Regions from separate parts of the Homo sapiens genome. Here region 1 is linked to region 2. A link means that fine-mapping ties the variant in region 2 to the expression of a gene that starts in the linked region. Tissue or cell type: thyroid. Region 2 holds a variant in brackets; the other region holds the start of a gene. All regions are shown on one strand. Distances are between the middles of the regions.

Region 1 (5,146 bases), 140 kb before region 2:
ATGGTGGTTCACGCCTGTAGTCCCAGCATCTTGGGAGGCAGAGGGGGCGGATCACCTGAGATCAGGAGTTCGAGACCTGGCCAACATGGTGAAACCCCACCTCTAGCAAAAATACAAAAATTAGCTGGGCATGGTGATGGGCACCTGTAATCCCAGCTATTCAAGAGGCTGAGGCGGAAGAATCTCTTGAACCCGGGAGGCGGAGGTTGCAGTGAGTCGAGATCACGCTATTGCACTCTAGCCTGGGTGACAAGAGTGAAATTCCATCTCAAGGAACAAAAACAAACAGAAAAACCCCTCCAATCCTGTAATGTGCAACCCACCTGTCCACGTGGTGCCTCAAACATCCCAGTGTGCCCCCGCTGGACCCCTGAGTGCACCCCACACTCATTCCTCTTCTGTCAGGGTTCAGAGTCTCAGCAAATGGTAGTTGGCCCATGTGGTCCTCAGGCCTGAGCTGCTCTCTACCAAAGCAATCTACACATATCCATCCCTTCCTTCCCCCATGCAGTGCAGCTTGTACCTCCAGGACCTGACCCAGGAGGAGCTCAGTAAATATTTGATCAAGTGACTGATAGCAGCGATAACACTCCACGGGACACGTTCACAAACACCCTCTTCCCCCAGCCCTGTTAGGTAGGTATAATTACTACCACTCTGCAGATGAGGAAACTGATGCCCAGAGAGATGAACAGTTTTGCTTGGGTGTGGGGTTGCACAGCCAGTGAATATGTGGGGGAGTTGAGATTGGAATTTAAGTGTGACTCCCCATGCTGGGTTCTCCCTGGACAGCTGCCACAGCCAGGGGAGCCTCCTTGCCAGGGCATGAATGGAAGAAGGGGGCCAGTTGGACAAGGAGTGATGCCCTGGGGTGAGGGCCAGCCAGCTGTGTTCACAGGTAGATTGCATGGCAGACATCTCCTGACACCCAGCCCCAAGAAGGCTTCCTTGAAACACACAGTGAGGTTCTTGGTTCTTGAGATGTCCTGGGAGCTGAGAGCCCCAGGTTTGGGGCCTGGATCTGGCACCAACTCTCAGTGTAACCACAAGCAGTCCATCCCTTCTTGGGGCTCAGCTGACTTCACTAAAGAGGGAATATGAGTAAGATGCCTAAGATGTGGAAGCAGAGGTCCTAATTCCTGGACAGGGGCAGAAGTGGGTAGTGGCCTCGGCAAACAAATCCCCTATTTGCCTCCTTTAAGCAGGATCCCCCTACCAGGCAGTGTGTGATGGTGAGGCCCAAGCCTGGGGTCTGACGTCGACACCCCTGTGGGCATTTGGCCAAAGGCAGCCATCTGCCAGAATCTGAGAGCTGCTCTCAGACCTCGCTGGAGAGGGCTACCTGGGGCAGTCTGAGTCTCTCTGGGCAGACTGAGGTCCTTTGCTACCCAAACGGGGAGAATTAGAGATACTGTTGGCTCCTGGGCACTGGAAGGGAGGAACGCAGGCCTCTCAGCACAGGGCTGGGCCAACAAGTTGGGGGTCCCGGCACAGGGGACAACGGAGAAGTGCCAACATTGGGACCCAATTATGTGATACTGGGGCCCAGAGATAGTACAGGTGCCTCATACCACGTGGCCCTGGGTGGACAGCAGGAATCTATTGCGAGTGGCGGGAGGCCGGGGCTGCCTGTCCTGCGCCCTGAAGCTGGCCAGCGGTTGTGGAAACTGGGGGATATTGAGGGAACCGTAGGCCCAGGTCCTCAGCCTCATAGTGTGGAACCTGGCGATCCCAGGGCCTGGGCTGGCCCCCGGCGTCACGGGACCGGGAAGGCGCTGTGGTGCTGCGGGGAATTGCGGAGAAGAAGGCGGGCTCCAGTGGAGGTGGCTCATCCCCGCACGGTCACTGCCCTCGCCCGCTGTTGGGGTCCGCGGCTGGGAGACTGAAGGCCTCAAGTCGGGCTGGGTAGGGGCACGTGGGCAGGGAAAGGGGTGGTAGATTACCAGTCTTCAGGGGCGGGGCTGGAGATGCAACCCTAGGGAAGGAGTCTACCAGGCTGGGCTCTTGAGGGGCAATGGAGGGCTCCGGGGGCCAGGCCAGGCCAGGATCATGGAGTTCAAAGGACTGGAGTGAGGTTTGGGGTCCATGAGAGTGGAGCTCAGAGGATGGGACGGTGGGTCCAGGATTTGGGACCTGGGGCTGGAAAGTCCGAGGCTAGTGGAGACCAGGCCTGGTATCCCAGACGAAAGGGCCCTATAGGAAACGGGGTCTCGTGGGCGGGATCTGGAGCCAGAGAATTGTGAGAGGCGGAGCTAGGATGGAGAAGGCGAGAGGAAAGGGGTAGCCGCCGGCGCGGAGACCTCAATGCGGGGCGTGGTGCGGAGGGGGAACTGGAGCGAGGGGCACTGGAGCGAGGGGGTGGGGCTACGAGGAGGTGGACTTGAGGGGCTGGGTCTGGGGCCGGAGAATCGTGGGGAGCTGCGCCTATACACCCGGGACGGTGGGGTTGCGTCGGGGAAGTGGGAGTCTTGGGGGTTCGCTGGGCAGCCTGGAGAACAGGCGGTCGTGGTGCGGGCGGGGCCGAAAAGACCGAGGACAGTGGGGACCCGGCCTGAGGAGGGGTCGGGAAGGAGGGGTGGGGGCGCGCGGACGCAGATCCCGGGCCGCGGCGGGGCGGTGGCAGGCTCCAGAGTGGCACGGGCCCAGGTGAGCGAGGTCTCCGCCCGCCGCCCCTCCCGCCGCCCCGGTGCCAGCTGCCCCGCTGGCCCCTCCCTGTACCCGGCGCTTGCTCCGCGGGCCGGGCCGACGGCGGCGGGCGGCGTCTCGCGCCCAGGCCAGGTCGGCTCTGGCTCCATCTTGGGCCGCGGCACCTGGCACCTGTGGCGGCCGCAGGAGCAGCGCTTCCCCCGCCTGCGCGGCCCCGGCGGGCGAGAGGGTGAGAGGCTGGCTCCGCGCGCTCCCGTTGGGGCGGGGGGCGTGGTGGGCGGCACCTCCCCCTTGCTGAGCCTCAGAACCCACTCCTTCCCGCTGCCTGCGCTCAGACCCCCGGCATCCTGGCCCCTGCCCAGCGCCCAGAGCCCCCGGTGGCCGCATCGCACTCCCCGCGCTCCGCCTCTCATTGTCCTGTCCTGTCCCCTCTTCTACGTCTCCTCTGCCCATCCTCCCATTTTCACAAGTCTGTCCGGGACCCTGTCTCCTTCGGCCTCCACCCCTGCTGCCATCGCTCCTCCCTCTCCCCTTCTTCCTTTTCCCCTCCCTCAGCCTACTGCGCCGCCTACCCCGCCCCCAGCCTTGCTGCCCTTTGGCTTCTCCTGTCCCGCATCATTACCCCGGCCCACAGCCCCATTTGCCTGCAGTCGCTGCCTTTGCTCCTGAGAAGGTCTGTAGCCTCGTTTCGGGCCCGTATTGAGCCCCCTTCTCCCTAAGTCCGGGTGGGCTTTGTGCAGGAGGGGCGGGAGGGGAGCTATTCTGGGCGAGGCTGCGTGGTGCGGTGCTTTCAGGCCTTTGGCCCCGCAGCAGGGGCGGCCTGTGCTTGGCGTGCAGAGTGCAGCTGGGTAGACGCTGTTACTGCATACGGGCCTGTGTGTCCCAGGCTGGGGCATGAGTGCTTGTGAGCGTGCAGATAGGGACACACCGGCCGCCTAGGCTGCTTCTAGGCCGGGGCACCCTCTCCACCTAGGTGCCCCCCAGGGATTGTGGGCAAATCCTCCCCAGGGGAGGAAGCTCAGGGGCTGTTGGGCGCCTAGGCCTCTTCCTGGTGAGCAGAGCCTCATCCATGGGGCCACTGACCCCACAGTTACCCCAGAACCCTTTCCTGGCACAGCTTGTGACCCGGGGCATGTAGCCCTTAAGGCACGTTCATTGTGAAGGGCAGGTTTTGTCTCCTCCAAACCCTCCCTTTAGGAATGCTGCCTGCTGCTTTGCCCAGAGTTGGCCCTGAGTGTTCCTATCAGGCCCCGTTCACTCTGGGGTGGATTAAACCACCTCCTGGAGGGTGCTGTATCCCCACTGTGCAATGGGGGTTTGTGCTGTGTGCATTCCTGCCTGGTCCTTGAGAGGTAAGGTCCATATTTTAACATAGAACCAGTTTTCCTGCCTGATCATATAGGTTTGCTTTTCCTGTTTTGGTTTTGCCGGACACATAAGTCATCATCCAAATGCTTGCCACTTAACTAGAGGGGACTTGGGCCAGGCGCTGTGGCTCATGCCTGTAATCCCAGCACTTTGGGAGGCCGAGGCAGGTGGATCACCTAAGGTCAGGAGTTCGAGACCAGCCTGGCCAACATGGCGAAAACCCCATCTCTACTAAAAATACAAAAATTAGCTGGGCGCCGAGGTGCACGCCTGTAATCCCAGCTGCCGGGAGACTAAGACAAGAGAATCACGTGAACCCAGGAGGCAGAGGTTGCAGTGAGCCGAGACTGAGCCATTGTACTCGAGCCTGGGAGACAGAGCGAGACTCTGTCTCACAAACAAACGAACGAACAAAACCAAGAGGGGACTTAGATGGATGCCACAGTGTTGTCTGAGATGGAGCCCACTTGTGGTGGTCTTGGTAGTCCCCTGGGCATATCCCAAAGGCCTGGGCTCCTCTGCTGTGGCAGCATGGCGGGAGCTGGACTCTGTACGTTGACTCAAAGGTCTCTATGTTTGGGCTAGTCTGGAAGTGTCTGAGAACTGGGGGCTTTTACTCAAAATGACATTGGTTGATTGCTACATAGGTGGTTGATCTTCCAGTTGCTGACAGGTGGAACCTGAGGCAGCAGGACAGCCTGGCATTGGCCACGGGACATCGGCCACAACCATAGCAACTTCGGCATCAAATGGGGCAGGAGAGAGAACATTAAGGTATCGTTCAAAGAATACTAGAGGTCTTGGATACTTCTGTATGCCTGTTCTTTATCTTGTCCTAAAAGATCTTCCGAGGGTCCCTTTAGGGCAAAACCAGAACCTTCTGTGTTGTTATAAAGGCAGGGTGGGTGTGCCATTCTGGGCATTTAAAGTGCAGACTCTAGACTTGTATGCATGCGTAGCCTCCTAGGTTAACATTTAAAATAGGCTCTGGGAAACCTAGTTTGGTGATAGGGAGACTGGGGACACTGATGGTGACCTGGTCCTAGGATGGGATGAAGGTAGCGAGGATGGGAAGCTAGAGGAGGCTAACCTTTGGGGTGTCTTGATGGCTTCTGAAAAGGGCCTCTCTGGC
Region 2 (5,146 bases):
GGGCCTCCCAGTGGAACAGTGACGAAGAGGCAGAGTCAGCCGTGGCGGAAGAGCAGGAAGGAGAGGAGTCCCAGAGCAGGATGGAGGGAGCATCAGGGAGATGGGTGGATGGCCAGGGCTGGCCTATGGGGCGATGACCAAAGGTTGCAGGGGTGGGTTCAGGAATGAGACCAATGAAGTCTCCTGATTTATGGCTTCCAGCTTTGGTGTAAGTCAATGACCCGAATCTCTGGAGAAGGGTGGGGAATCTGACTCTGAATATGTGGCCCAGGAGCCCTGCATGAAGGAGCTGGGGCCTGAAGAGTAACTCTGCATTGAGTACTAGGCCTCCAAATCAGATCCTGGCCAGCTGCTGTCTCTGATGGCTCCCAGTCCTCCCCTCAGACCCACGGCCGTAGGCCAGACTGGCAGGGGCAAGAGGCAGGAGCCAAGTGGGACATGTCCAGTGTCCTGGCCAAACATACACTGGACGCAGATGAGCCATATGCCTGGGAAACAGAGAAATGGGGTGAGGCCAGGTCTTCTTGTGAGAATGAATGTGCCTTACTCTCTCCTGGAGAGAGGGTGATGACAAGAGTTCATTCATTCATTCATAATTGCTTTTTGATTTAAGCAGGCGAGTTTGTTGTTTAACAGGCTGGGAACATCTCTCTTTTATTGAAACATGTGACATAGCAGGTTAAACTCCTAAAGATTCAGCACAGCAGATGAGAATCAAGGAGTTTCCTTCTTAAAAAGCATAACTTGCATATGAATGAAGATGATTCCAAATTATGTTTTTTCCCCATGACCCTAAAATTTTATCCCAAATGGAGTTATAATATTAGATATTGATCAGATCAGCATTTCATATCAAAGCTCAGGACATCCATCTAAATATTTAAAAATCTTTCACTCTCACAGCACATCTTGTGATCAATGTAAAACAAACAGATAGGAACAAATCAAATATGAGAGAAGGGTTTATGGTGAGAGAAAACAGTTTCTATCCTCTCCCCTCCCCAGTCCTGGCCTCACTCTCCAGAGGCAACTTCTTGTAAACATTTCCATTTTTAGTACTTCTGGTGGGTGCCTCCACAATGCTTAGTAGCATGTATAGGCACCCTTATTTTTTTATTCATCTGGAGAAAATTTATCTACCTCCTGTGATGGAACATAAGAAATGGCCTCATTATGCACCTCTGCTTCCTCCCTTCATCCTTCCAAAGTTTTATCATTTTGGCATAATTATTTTTAGTTTTCTGTTATTTACTTTTAAAACTTTAAACCATATAATTGTACTTTGATTCTGCATTCCATCCACCTCAGGGAGAGTAACGGTCTGGGGCGGTCAGGTTGGGTCTGTTCCCATACCCTCCCCTTCTTCTGAAAGGACTCTCCCCTCCCTCCCGGGGGCCTGTGCCCATGACCAGCCAGTCACAGGGCCAGGCATATGTCCTGGGCCCTGGCCACTGTGGGATACAGGCATGCTCCCCAATCTTGACCACTAGGAATCCTGCAGGACTTTCACTACTAAAACTGCTCTCTTCAGGTCACAACAGTAACTATCAGTTCAACTACAACAAAGGTTTCTGAAGACAATGGCTTCTCCACCCAAGCAGGTTGTATATAAATTCCAAATAGAACTTGGCATCACCCTGAAGGAATTCTAACTTCACACTGTTGGGGAAATTTACCAAGATAGCTTCAGAGTAAACTAACTTTACACAGCACATTAAAACAAAAGACATTTATTCAGCGTCATGATCAGACTATTACATTTAGCAATCAACAGCATGGGTGCAAAAAAAAAAAAAACCTATATTAAAACCCTTAGCTGGAATGCTTTACACTTTCCACAGAACAGAAACTAAAATAACCTGTTATACAGTTAGTCACAAATACAGTCCTCGAATTTTTTGCCCATACACATGAGTATTTGTCTAAAACATGTCTTCTTTGTAGCAGCTAGGCCCTGCCACCACTGTGCTTGGCTGAGTTCACAAATCTGTCGTAACCTGTAGATTCCCTGTCATTTCTCTGGCTCTCCTCTCCTGCTAAGCTTTGTTTCCTAATTAAAATCTGCCACTGCCATAGCTACTGCTGCTGCTGGAACCGCCAA[T/C]AGCCACCTTGGTTTCATGGTTTTGCAAAGTATAGGCCTCCATTGCCACAGGGGCCAGAGCTTCTGCCTCCAAAATTTCCTCCCTTCATGGGTCCAAAATTTGAAGACTCATTGTTGTAATTGCCAAAATCATTGTAGCTTCCACCACCTCCAAAATTGCTTCCATCATTACCAAATCCATTACAGCCATCCCCACTGCCACCATATCCACCACCACCACGACTGCCACCAAAGCCACCAAGACCACTGAAGTTTCCTCCAATACCAAAGTTGTCATTCCCACTGAAACCACCTCCACGACCACCACCAAAGTTTCCAGAACCACTTCGACCTCTTTGGCTGGATGAAGCACTAGCCATCTCTTGCTTTGACAGGGCTTTCCTAACTTCACAGTTGTGGTCATTCACAGTATGGTATTTCTGAATGACAATCTTAACGACGGAGTCATGGTCGTCAAAAGTTACAAAGGCAAAGCCCCTTTTCTAGCCACTGACTCGGTCAGTCATGATTTCAGTCACCATTAAAAGGGATTACCCAAGCAAAATCATGGAATTATTGGTTATAAAAGTAATTGTTGGCACATCCTATGTAACATATCTAATTGAATAATGGTACCAGATTAAATTATAGATGGGAATGAAGCTTGTGTATCATCCATTATCATGTGTAATCAATAAACAATTTAATTCTCTTGAAAAAAATAAATAAAACTGCTCTCTTTTGTTCTGGGATTACCTCTAGGAAGGAAATGTAAAATCAGCTCTTGTAGGGTGCCTCCAGGCCCCTGACACGTGGAAAGATCGTGCAGGAGAAAACCAACCCAGAGGTCAGTGGAGGTGGAGAGGAAGTTGTGAGAGAGATCAAGCTGTGGTGGTGAGAAAGGCAGCTAGTCCTGCTCACTGAAGCCTCCATTGCTTCCGGACTGTCACAGTTACACCGACCTGACAATTTCAGTATTAGCATTAGAGAATTGTTTCAGCTTTCCAACTAACGCAGGGTGTATTGTACACCCCACCTCAGGTAAGATGAGAATTAGCACGTAGGCTGCCTGTGCTACTTTTCTGTTGCTGCTGTAACAAATTTCCACAAATTTATGATTTGCTTAGAGCACCACAAATCTTACAGTTCTGGAGGCCAGAAGTCCAGCATGGGCCTCACGGGGCTAAAATCAGTGTCACAGGGCAGCTGTGTTCCCATGAGGCGGCTGTGTTCCCATAAGGCTCCGGGTGGAGACTGTTTCCTTGCCTTTTCCAGCTTCTAGAAGCTGATGGAGTTCCTTGGCCAGCCACTTTCTCCCTCCATTGTCACAGCAGGTGTGGCTTCACTCTGACCTCTTCTGCTTCTCCCTTCCACCGAAGGGCCCCTGTGGTTACACTGGGTACACCTGGGGGCTTAGCCTGTCTAATATTGCCACACCCTCTTGTGAATCTTCTTTTTTCTTTTCTAAGAGATGGGGTCTCGCTTTGTTGCCTAGGCTGGAGTAGGGTGGTGTGACGGTAACTCACTGCAGGCTTGAATTCCTGTCCTCAAGCGATCCTCCTGCCTCAGCCTCCGAAAGTGCTGGGATTACAGGTGGGAGCCACAGTGCTAGGCCTCTCATGAACCCTGTCTTCCAGAAATGTGTTGGACTCTCATCCATTAGTAAGCCATCTTTCTCTCTTTTTTTAATGCTTTTCCCTTATAGATTTACTCCATTTTAAATTTATAAGCTTAAATTTCAGTGATGATGTCTTAGGAAGAACAGGAGAGGAGGAACAAAGGAACAAACCACTTTAATGGGAAGCTGAAAGGACCCTTTTAAAAGTGTGCAGTGGGGAGAGCCTGGGCTTGGTCTCTGGTAAACCTGGTGAATGGTGGGTTAACACTCCCTCCCTCACTCGGTGTTGCTGGGAGGATAAGACAGAACTTGTGGCGAGCAGGTGTCCAATAGCTGCCTCTTGCTATGTGCAGCCAGTGCCACATCCAGGCTGAGTGCTGTGGGGAGTGTGGCTCATCCCGCTGGGGCCACCCCAGGCCTCGCTCACTGGAGACTCCAGAATCAGGGCTGACTGAGCAGCTTGTGGCACTGAAGAATGTTCTAGGAAAGGAGGTGTGTCCTCCTTGGAAGGGGAAGCTTCATGGTGGGTGAGCTGAGGGTAAGGGGTGGGTGAGGGCCATTTGAAGAGTCACCTCCCCTACATTCTTTTATCTTTTGGAGCCTCCATCCACGCCACTTCAAACAATGAACACACACATCCAAGTCAGTAAGTGCACTTTGTGTATATCTATATAAGTGATGCGCAATTACTATATAACAGTTCACTAGCTGACCTGACATTATTCACATATCGTAGGCATGTGACTAATTGTAGGTGTGTAATGAAGTGTTCACATCTTATTACATATTTAATTCCTAAGGCATTTCTACAGTTTTATTTGAGAATTTTGGAACTGCCAGTATGTTTTTCATGTTTCAAACCTTTTCACAGGCCCTGAAAAAACCCAAAGGCCTTATATTCTGGGACCGTAATGGACAAAACAGCCCTGGGAAGTATGCTTGAGAGGATGGCGAAGGCTGGGTTTGCTGAGGGAGGTGCCAGCTAAGGTGCTGGGCACACCAGAGGCAAGGGATCTGGACCACAACTGTCAGTTTGACGAACACACTAATGGTGGAGTGACCCCCACCAGGAGTGGCCAGCAAGCAGGGTCCAACAGGAAAGACATCTGGGAGGCCAGCAGGTAGAATCCTGGCTCTGCCACCTTCGTGCTATGTGATATCAGCCAAGTTACTTGCCCTCTCTGATTCTCAAATGCTCGGAGGCCCTTTGACCTCTAGAGTCTATGGGACCTGAGTGACCACAGGGCTCTTGTTTGTTGGTGGCTGCCTCTTTATTTAACTCCTTTTCTCAAATACGGTCTATGGGCTTTGCTTAAAGTGAGGTGTCCTGTGCACACTCTTCTCCATGACTTTGAGGCCGTGAGAAGCCCCGCCCTGCAGAAGGACTGAGGAAACTAGTGCTGGAGTCTCCTTTCTTGTATCAGTGAAGGAAGGGGAGAGAGGAGATA

The links. PIP is the estimated chance that this variant, and not a neighbour inherited with it, causes the effect.
Region 1: GPRIN2 starts here. The variant in region 2 is fine-mapped to the expression of GPRIN2 in thyroid (GTEx, PIP 0.98). The same link has a PIP of 0.9 or more in cerebellum.

What each region holds. Positions count from the first base shown.
Region 1 is chr10:46,554,227-46,559,372 of GRCh38, reverse strand. It overlaps GPRIN2 (G protein regulated inducer of neurite outgrowth 2), which reads left to right and starts at 2,715. Exons shown (of 3, transcript NM_001385282.1): 1 at 2,715-2,875; 2 at 4,678-4,788. RefSeq lists enhancers at 1,268-1,973, 2,679-3,384.
Region 2 is chr10:46,413,326-46,418,471 of GRCh38, reverse strand. All of the region lies in intron 1 of LINC00842 (long intergenic non-protein coding RNA 842), which reads right to left. It also overlaps the pseudogene HNRNPA1P33. Among named protein-coding and RNA genes, the nearest start is that of LINC00842, 18 kb to the right of the region's middle. The variant T/C (reference allele first, on the strand shown) is at 2,102.